Regions from separate parts of the Homo sapiens genome. Here region 2 is linked to region 1. The links come from fine-mapping of genetic effects on gene expression. A gene starts in region 1. The other region holds a variant in brackets. All regions are shown on one strand. Distances are between the middles of the regions.

Region 1 (4,393 bases):
GGCCTGGCGCGGTGGCTCATGCCTGTAATCTCAGCACTTTGGGAGGACGAGGCGGGTGGATCACCTGAGGTCGGGAGTTTGAGACCAGCCTGACCAACATGGTGAAACCCCGTCTCTACTGAAAATACAAAAAATTAGTTGGGTGCGGTGGTGGGCTCCTGTAATCCCAGCTACTTGGGAGGCTGAGGCAGGAGAATTGCTTGAACCCAGGAGGCGGACGTTGCGGTGAGCCGAGATCATGCCATTGCACTCCAGCCTGGGCAACAAGACCGAAACTCTGTCTCATTAAAAAAAAAAAAAAAGTGCTTGAGGCTGGGAGTTTGAGGCTGCAGTGAGCCATGATCATGTCACTGCAACAGAGTGAGACCCTTTCTCCAAAAACAAACAAACAAACAAACAAACAAAAAACTAAAAAACCCCTGAAAGCTATTGCTTTCAGTGGTAAAGTGTTGTATCAGTGGTTCTCCAAATGTGGTATCTAGACCTGCAGCATCAGCTTCATTTGGGAGCTTGTTAGAAATGCAAATTATTCAGCCCCATCTCAAACCTACTGGATGGGAAAGTCTATGAGTGGAGCGAGTAATCTTTGTTTTAACAGTCCTTCTGGGTGAATTGATTCAGATCACACTGAGGTTTGACAGGAAAGAAAAATAGCTCAGGGAAGTCTGAGTTATGTGAAGTATGCAAAATTTGTCAGGTCCACTGAGACTTGTGTATGGGAGTTCGGGCACACTCCCACCTCCACATGCTCGGGGACAATTGTTTAAAGATATTTTGTTCCAGACTAGCTGCCTCCCCCATTTCCTTCAGGTTCCTGAAATTTGTGATACAAAGAACAATGTATAGGCAATAGCTTATGTTATTTTTTCCCCCTTTCTCATCATTCCTATTCAACCTTATGTTATGCCTCTTTTTTCCTTAGAAACCCACTTGAAGCCAGGCGGGAGGGCTCACGCCTGTAATCCCAGCACTTTGGGAGGCCGAGGCTGGCGGATCACCTGAGGTCGGGAGTTCAAGACCAGCCTGGCCACTATGGTGAAACTCCGTTTCTACTAAAAATAAAAAAAATAGCCGGGCATCATGGTGGGTGCCTGTAGTCCCAGCTACTCGAGAGGCTGAGGCAGGATAATCGTTTGAACCCGGGAGGCGGAAGTTGCAGTGAGCTGAGATTGCACCATTGCACTCCAGCCTGGGCGACAAAGCGAGACTCCGTCTCAAACAACAACAACAACAAACTACACTCTAGTCTGGGCGACAGAGCAAGACCCTGTCTTAAAAACAAACAAACAAACAAGGAAACCCCATTTGTAACTGCCACTAATTGGACTATACTTCTGGTGGGCCATCTTCAAGCTTCGGGCTTGAATAAACCCTATACTTAAATACTATTTTCTCAATCTCGTTATTTAAGGTTGACAAGGGCCATTGGGTTACATAGATTTGCTCCAATCTATGTAGTAGGCACACCCGCGGGCTCAACCTCAGCTGTTTGGGATAGTTTCCTGACTGTTTCTTAAAATTAGCACTTTCAGCCTGGCTGGATGACTCATACCTGTAATCCCAGCACTTTGGAAGGCTGAGGCAGGAAAGCTGCTTGAGCCCAGGAGTTCCAGACCAGCCCAAGCATCAAAAGGAGGCCTCACCTCTGCAAAAAATAAAAAAATTTAGCTGGGCATGGTGGCGCACCAGGAGGTTGAGGCTGCAGTGAGCCATGATTGTGTTACCGCACTCCAGCCTGGGCAACAGAGCAAGAACCTGTCCCCAAAAATAAAACAAAATAAAGATGAGCACTTTCACGAGTAAAGTGGATTGGAGGATGGGAACAGGAATCCAACACATTCTCTGCCTCTCTCAGCACCTTGGCTATCGAAGTTACGTTTATCTCCCCTGTCCTAGCATCCACAGCAGGGCCTGGAATATAGTCGGGCAAGAGTGTGTGGACTGCATGAATGTAAGCTCCATAGGGCCGCGTGTCGTCACGCTGCCAGCTCGATGCTCCGCCCGTAAAAGGCACTCACTAAAATTTTAGCGGAATGAATGGGCGAAAAAAGCGAAAGGGAAACCACGCCTTTACTAAAATGGCAGCCCGGGCTCCCTTTACCAAGATGGCTGCCGGCCCGCGTGGACGCACGGGCGGTGGGCGCAGGGGGCGGGGCAAGAGAGGGCGTGGTAAGAAGGCGGGGCCAGTGGGAGCCGTCAGGTGCAGCCCCGCCCTCCGCCCTCCGCCCGCTCCCCCCGCTCGCCCCGCTCGATTCCGGATTGGTCCGGTTCCAGCGCCGCAGCCCGGCGGCCGCGCTGTGGGGCCGCCCGGCGCTCGCCACTTCCGGCGCGTTGGGGCTGTTGGTCGGGGGCGGCCGCGCGGTACTAGCGGGCGGCTCCAGGGCGGGCGCGCGCAAGGATGCTCTAGGGGGCGGCGGCAGTGGCCGTGTGGGTTGAGGCTGCGAGGACAGCGCGGGCCCCCGGGCCTCTCCCCTGAGCCGGCCGCCTGGGCCGCGCGGTCGAGGCCTGTCAGCCTCCGCCCGTTCAGCCTCGGGGCCGGGGCCGCCGCCACCTCTGCCCGCGGAGGCCGGGGAGCCCCTGCCTGGGCCCGCAGCCTCCCCCGCGGGGGTCGGGCCCGGGCGGGGGTCCCGAGCAGCTGCCCTCCTCGCCGGCATCCGAGCCTCATTTCCTGCTTTTTCAGTTTCCTTGGGGAGGGGCGGGTGGGTCTGGATGAATTGTCTCGGGGTCCCCCGATGAGGCGACCCGGGCGGCCCTGCCCTTTTTAGAGGGTCCCCTCGGGGCCCGGTGGGGAAGGGGTTGTCTTTGCATGGGTGGGGGACTTCCCGAGTCTGCCGGGACCATGACCTGAACTGTGCGAGCGGGACGTGTCCGAAGCCCAAGAACCAGCTCATCTGAGCCGCCCCCTCCCCGGCCAGCATGGTAAGTGGAATTGGAGCCCCCTTCCCTCCTGGGGTGCCCTACCGGAAGGGTGGGAATGGGCCCCGGGGCTGCTGAGCCATCGCTGCTCTCCCCATGGCGGGGAGAGGCGCGTGCGGAGCCTGGCCGGTGACACATGCGTGCAGAGTGTGCAGCCCCGGCCCTGCGCTCCCATCCCCCCAGGGATGATGGCTCAGGCCTGGGAGGGCCCTGGGAGCGCAGCAGGCACAACCCTTGCATCTGGTGTTTGCCTCCTGCAGCTCCTCCGGATAATAACTATCGTTTATTGAGGGCTTACTACTTGCCAAGGCCCTGCGCGAAGTGATTGACAGTGCAGTAGTATTTAATGATCACACCAGCCCTCTGTTCGGAAGTGGGGAGACTGAGGCACGGAGCAATTAATTCCCCAGCTCAAGGTCAAGCGACTTTTTAACAGTGTTAAGATTTGAACCTAGGCATCTGACTTTGAACCTAGGCATCTCTAATACACTTAGAGAGCTGGGTGATTGTAGGAGAAACATCTCATCTAGCTGTAGGTTTATATATGAGGAAACAGAGCGATTTACAGAGGTCACTTGCACAGGTGATGGCAAAGTCAGGAATGGTCGTGATCTTTTGACACTGAGGCTGCTATTCTACATGCTCTGATCTCTGCTGAAGCTACCTTCCACGTTTTCTAGACCGATACTTTCAATACTCCCCTAAATGTGTGTACTCACATCTCTTTGTGTATCCACATCTCCACGTTTTCTAGACCGATACTTTCAATACTCCCCTAAATGTGTGTACCCACATCTCTTTGTTAAGCATTTGCCTTTTTGCTCTTGTAATTATTTCTGAGCCTTATCTGTCTATTGCGGTATACACAGCTCCTTCAAAGACCAAATTGTTTGAACCCTTATCTGCTCCAGCTCCTGGCACATAGTAAGCCCTTGGTAAGTACTGGATCACCTAGCCTGTGGTTGAGCACCTCGAGGAGTGGAGCTGTTCTCCTCAGTTTCACCCATTTTACCCCTGCCAAGTTAGTGGTATAATAGAGAAAGGGACATAGCTGCATCTTTTGTGATACAGACCTTAAGGCCTGTGGAATTTTCGAAACATTCAAGGGGCCTGTGGGTAGTGTGTAGGTCCTGAGATATGGAGCTTACAACCAGCTGGGTAAAGTACACCATTAATGCTGAGCAGCACCGTACAGTATATGCTATACGTATAGTGTATGTGTTTTATTTTTATTTGTTTTGAGACAGGGTCTTGCTTTGTTTCCTAGGCTGGAGTGCAGTGGCACGTTCATGGCTCACTGCAGCCTCGACCTCCTGGGCTCAAGCAGTCCTCCCACCTTAGCCTCCCAAGTAGCTGGGGCTGCAGGCAAGTGCCACCATGCCTGGCTAATTTTTTGTGGAGATGAGGTCTCACCACGTTCCCCAGGCTGGTCTTGAACCTGAGCTCAAGTGATCCGTCCTCCTCAGCCTCCCAAAGT
Region 2 (4,393 bases), 71 kb after region 1:
CAGATTATTAGTATTAAACACACACTTTTGCAGATCATTATACTAATAGAGCAGTGGTATAGAGAATTTAAATTCTTTTTTTGCTTTAGGCTAGCCGTGTTACTTTTGGTCAAGTTATATGCTGATCACATTTCCTCTTGCAAAATGGACGTACTTAACACTTCTCTTGCAGGATGGTTAGGATTCAAGGAAATCATGTATGTAAAATACCTGGCACAGCATCTAGATGTATTAGGCACTCAGTAAATGGTCACAGTGATGACAACAGCAATGATGAATAATAGAAGATGTTACTGCCTTTAGACTGTGGTTGTGACTGTAGCGTTAGGTGGCATGGCCCCTGGACAGTCTAAAGGCCTTTAGCCCACCTGCAGATGTTTACCTGCCTGCCCTGGCATCTGTTGTCTAATGTCACAGTTGTCAGTTGTTCTGGCTGACCACTTGAAACAGTGGGAATTTTTCTCATTGATCATGTGATTATCATCCTAAATGAGGCTTTTTAATTTTTCATGATTTATTCTTTTTTAAACATAACACTTTCATATAATGCCTTTATGCCTTTGAAAAATAAAACAACAGGCCAAGTGCCATTGCTCATTCTTGTAATCCCAGCACTTTGGGAGACTGAGGCAGGAGGATCACTTGAGGGCAGGAGTTTGAGACCAGCCCGGCCTACATAATGAGACCCTGTCTCTACAAAAACTTAAAAAACAAATTAGCCAGACATGGTAGTGTGCACGTGTAGTTCCAGCTCCTTGTGGGGACCAAGGTGGGAGGATCACTTGAGCCCAGGAGTTTGAGACCAGCCTGGGCAACATAGCAAGACTCTGTCTGTACAAAAAATACAAAAATTATCCAGGCATGGTGGTGCATGCCTGTAGTCCCGGCTACTCAGGAGGCTGAAGCAGGAGGACTGCTTAAGCCCAGGAGTTGGAGGCCACAGTGAGCTATGATCATGCCATTGCACTCCAGCCTGGGCGACAGAGCAAGACTCTGTCTCTAAAATAAAATAAAACAACAACAACAACAAAAACCCCTCCAAGCTCCTCTGGTTAGTGCTGTTAAATAGTAACCACCGTCTGGGGAACTGCATGTCCTGTCAGATACCCCTTAGTGGTCTAAGACAGTAGACTACAAAGAACATGTGTTAGTCCAGTGGGCTGCACAAAGAAAATATTTCAACTTCAGCTTATAATTTTTTCTGTAACCCTTAACATTCACCACTCCAGACTATGAGAGACTCTTAATATATCAGAGATATGCTGTTTTGCAGGAGCAGCTGCTGAAGAACACTGGCTTCTGGTGATGACCACATTTATGTTAACTAAGAGCATGCACATGTGATCAAATGTTTGTCAACTGATAAAATATACCAGAGAGAAGTTGGGATGTTCTGGAATCATATTTCAGAAGCAACTAATCTTGCAGGAAGTAGTCAAAAATGTTTTCTTGCTGTCTTAAATGGGAAATGTAGGTGTGGTTAAGTCACAAAGGCAGCACTCATTTCCTGTCCCCTGTGGTTTAAAGGTTTTGCATCATTCATCACAACAAAGTGGTAAGCATTGTAGGCTACAAATTTAGAAGCACAAATATACATAGATTTATTTTTGGTCCTAGGAGCTTGGAAATTGGAGCTCTGCATGCTCACTTGCCTGGTCAGGAGCGCAGTGGCGCGATCTTGGCTCGCTGCAAGCTCCGCCTCCTGGGTTTACACCATTCTCCTGCCTCAGCCTTCCGAGTAGCTGGGACTACAGGTGCCCGCCACCACGCCCGGCTAATTTTTTGTATTTTTATTAGAGACGGGGTTTCACCGTGTTAGCCAGGGTGGTCTCGATCTCCTGACCTCATGATCCACCCGCCTCGGCCTCCCAAAGTGCTGGGATTACAGGTGTGAGAGGAATTTCTTGATGAGAGACTGTGGGGACTTGAGAGAGCCTGAGCCCCAGTGTTAATGGGGTAAATGTTCTGTAGCCATTCCTGCAGAGTGGAATGGCCGATGGGGTAGATCATCCTGATCTGTATTTTGAGGTGGTGGCATGGAAAGGCCCGGATTTTCCTTTCCCTTTCCTTGTTTGTGCTTTTGGATGGTTGTGCCTTCCTCACAGATTGTTGAGAAAGTGGGATGAACTAATGAGCGTAAAGTGCCTTGGCTGACAGTAGGTGCTCAGCAAATAAGCATTGGTTCACCTCCCCTTTCTCTCTCACTTC[C/T]GGCTCTTTGTGCTTGTCAATGTGAAGGGAGTCACCTGTGTAGAAACTTATTTTTACAGGAAGGTGAAGAAACCTGAGTGTGTGAAGCAACCTAAAGTCATTGTGTCATGTTCTGTGAGCCTCTTTGTGACTAGACTTCTGGCAAGTGCTGGCCACAAACCAACGTAGGGATTCTGGTGACATTAGATAGGACTGTAAACAAATGTGAGTGAGGGTGAGAAAAACTGCTCCTTGCTTTTTGGAGTGGGTGAACCTGCTTAATAAAGAGGAAGTGCCACTGTTACACATGACATTGTGGTGCAATAAAGGTGTGAACTAGGTTTAGATCAGAGCTCTAGCAGCTTTCTAGTTCTTGCTCTTGACTGCCCCACAGGGCAAGTGAATAGAGTCTTAGTTGCTTTATTGAGTTGAAAAAGCTATCCAGGAATATGCTTCAATCCTTTGTATTTACCTGACTTGGAATTTTGTCTGTTTATCACCTGTGTGTTTTTCATTCATTTCTTTGTTCATTTGTTCTTTATTCATATATATTTTATTGAGCACCTACTATGTAGTTGCCTTAACATGTATAATTTTATTTAACTCTCAGAACTTGAGGCTTATAGGCTTATCTCTGTGGTGTATATAAGCATTTAATGCTGTAAATTTCCTTCTAAGCCCTGCTTTAGCTTTATCCCTCAAAAAAAATTTTTTTTTTTTTTTTTGAGACGGGGTCTCACTCTGTCACCAGGCTGGAGTGCAGTGGCGTGATCTTGGCTCACTGCAACCTCTGCTTCCCGGGTTCAAGCAATTCTCCTGCCCCAGCCTCCCGAGTAGCTGGGATTACAGGCACAAACCACCACACTCAGCTAATTTTTGTATTTTCAGTAGAGACAGGGTTTCACCATGTTGGTCAGGTTGGTCTCAATCTCATGACCTTGTGATCCGCCCGCCTTGGCCTCCCAAAGTGCTGGGATTACAGGCGTGAGCCACCACGCCCGGCTATCCTTCAAATTTTAATGTTACATTTTAATTTTCATTTGATTTAAAATATTTTCTAATTTCTTTGGAGATTTCCTGTTTAGTTTCCGAATATTTGGGGATTTTCCATATACCTTTTTGTTATTGTTTTCTAGTTTAATTTGTACATGTCTTTTTTTTTTTTTTTTTGAGATGGGGTCTTGCTCTGTCACCCAGGCTGGAGTGCAATGGTGTGATCTCGGCTCACTGCAACCTCCACCTCCCAGGTTCAAGCGATTCTCCTGCCTCAGCCTCCCAAGTAGCTGGGATTACAGGTGCCCGCCACCACGCCTGGCTAATTTTTGTATTTTTAGTAGAGACAGGGTTTTGCCACGTTGGCCAGGCTGGTCTGGAACTCCTGACCTCAGGTGATCCGCCTGCCTTGGCCTCCCAAAGTGCTGGGATTACAGGCGTGAGCCACTGCGCCCAGCCTGTACATGTTGTCTTTATCCTACTTATTCTATCAGTTACTGAGAGGGGGGTGAATTCTCCAAAAATAATTTTGGATTTGTCTGTCTCCTTTTAGTTTGATCAGTTTTTGCTTCATTTATTTTGAGACTCTGTTAGTTGCATACACATTTAGTTTTCTTTTCCAGTGTGTCTATTGAGTGTTGGACCACATTTCTTTATGTGGGTTTTTTTGGTGGTTGCTCTGGGTATTACAGTATATATACTTAACTTTTCAGAGTCACATTTTACCACAAGGGTGGTATGGAAACCTTACCACCATATAGATTAGAGTCCTTTAGCCTCTCTTCTTTATATTGAGGTTTTACATATACATACTTGGAAAACCCCACCAGACAGTGTTCTAATTTATACACGTACCCATCATTCATATTTTATAGCTCTTAAGAAGAAAGAAGTAGTCTATTAGATTTACCCAGACATTGCCATTTCTCTTGCTTTTCCTTCCTTCTTGAAGTTCCAGGTTTCTTTCTCATATTGTTTACCTTCTCTATTAGTTAGATTGGGCTACCATAACAAAATACCACAGGCTGGCCTTAAACAACAGAAATTTATTTTCTCTTAGTTTTGGAGTCTAGAAGTTCCACTTCAAGATGCTGGCAGATTCTGTTTCTGTGAGCTCTCTTGGTAGCTTGCAGATGGCGCCTTCTCTCTGAATGCTCACGTGGCCTTTCTTGTGTGCATGTGAGGAAAGGGAGGGAGAGAACCCTTGTGTCTC

Evidence for each region. PIP is the estimated chance that this variant, and not a neighbour inherited with it, causes the effect.
Region 2: its variant is fine-mapped to the expression of XPO6 in whole blood (TOPMed, PIP 0.90).

Annotation. Positions count from the first base shown.
Region 1 is chr16:28,209,892-28,214,284 of GRCh38, reverse strand. XPO6 (exportin 6) reads left to right here and starts at 2,320. Exons shown (of 24, transcript NM_015171.4): 1 at 2,320-2,919. The coding sequence starts at 2,917. RefSeq lists a silencer at 2,083-2,572 and an enhancer at 2,202-3,200.
Region 2 is chr16:28,139,196-28,143,588 of GRCh38, reverse strand. The region is part of intron 9 of XPO6 (exportin 6); the gene reads left to right. Among named protein-coding and RNA genes, the nearest start is that of XPO6, 71 kb to the left of the region's middle. RefSeq lists an enhancer at 1,914-1,963. The variant C/T (reference allele first, on the strand shown) is at 2,209.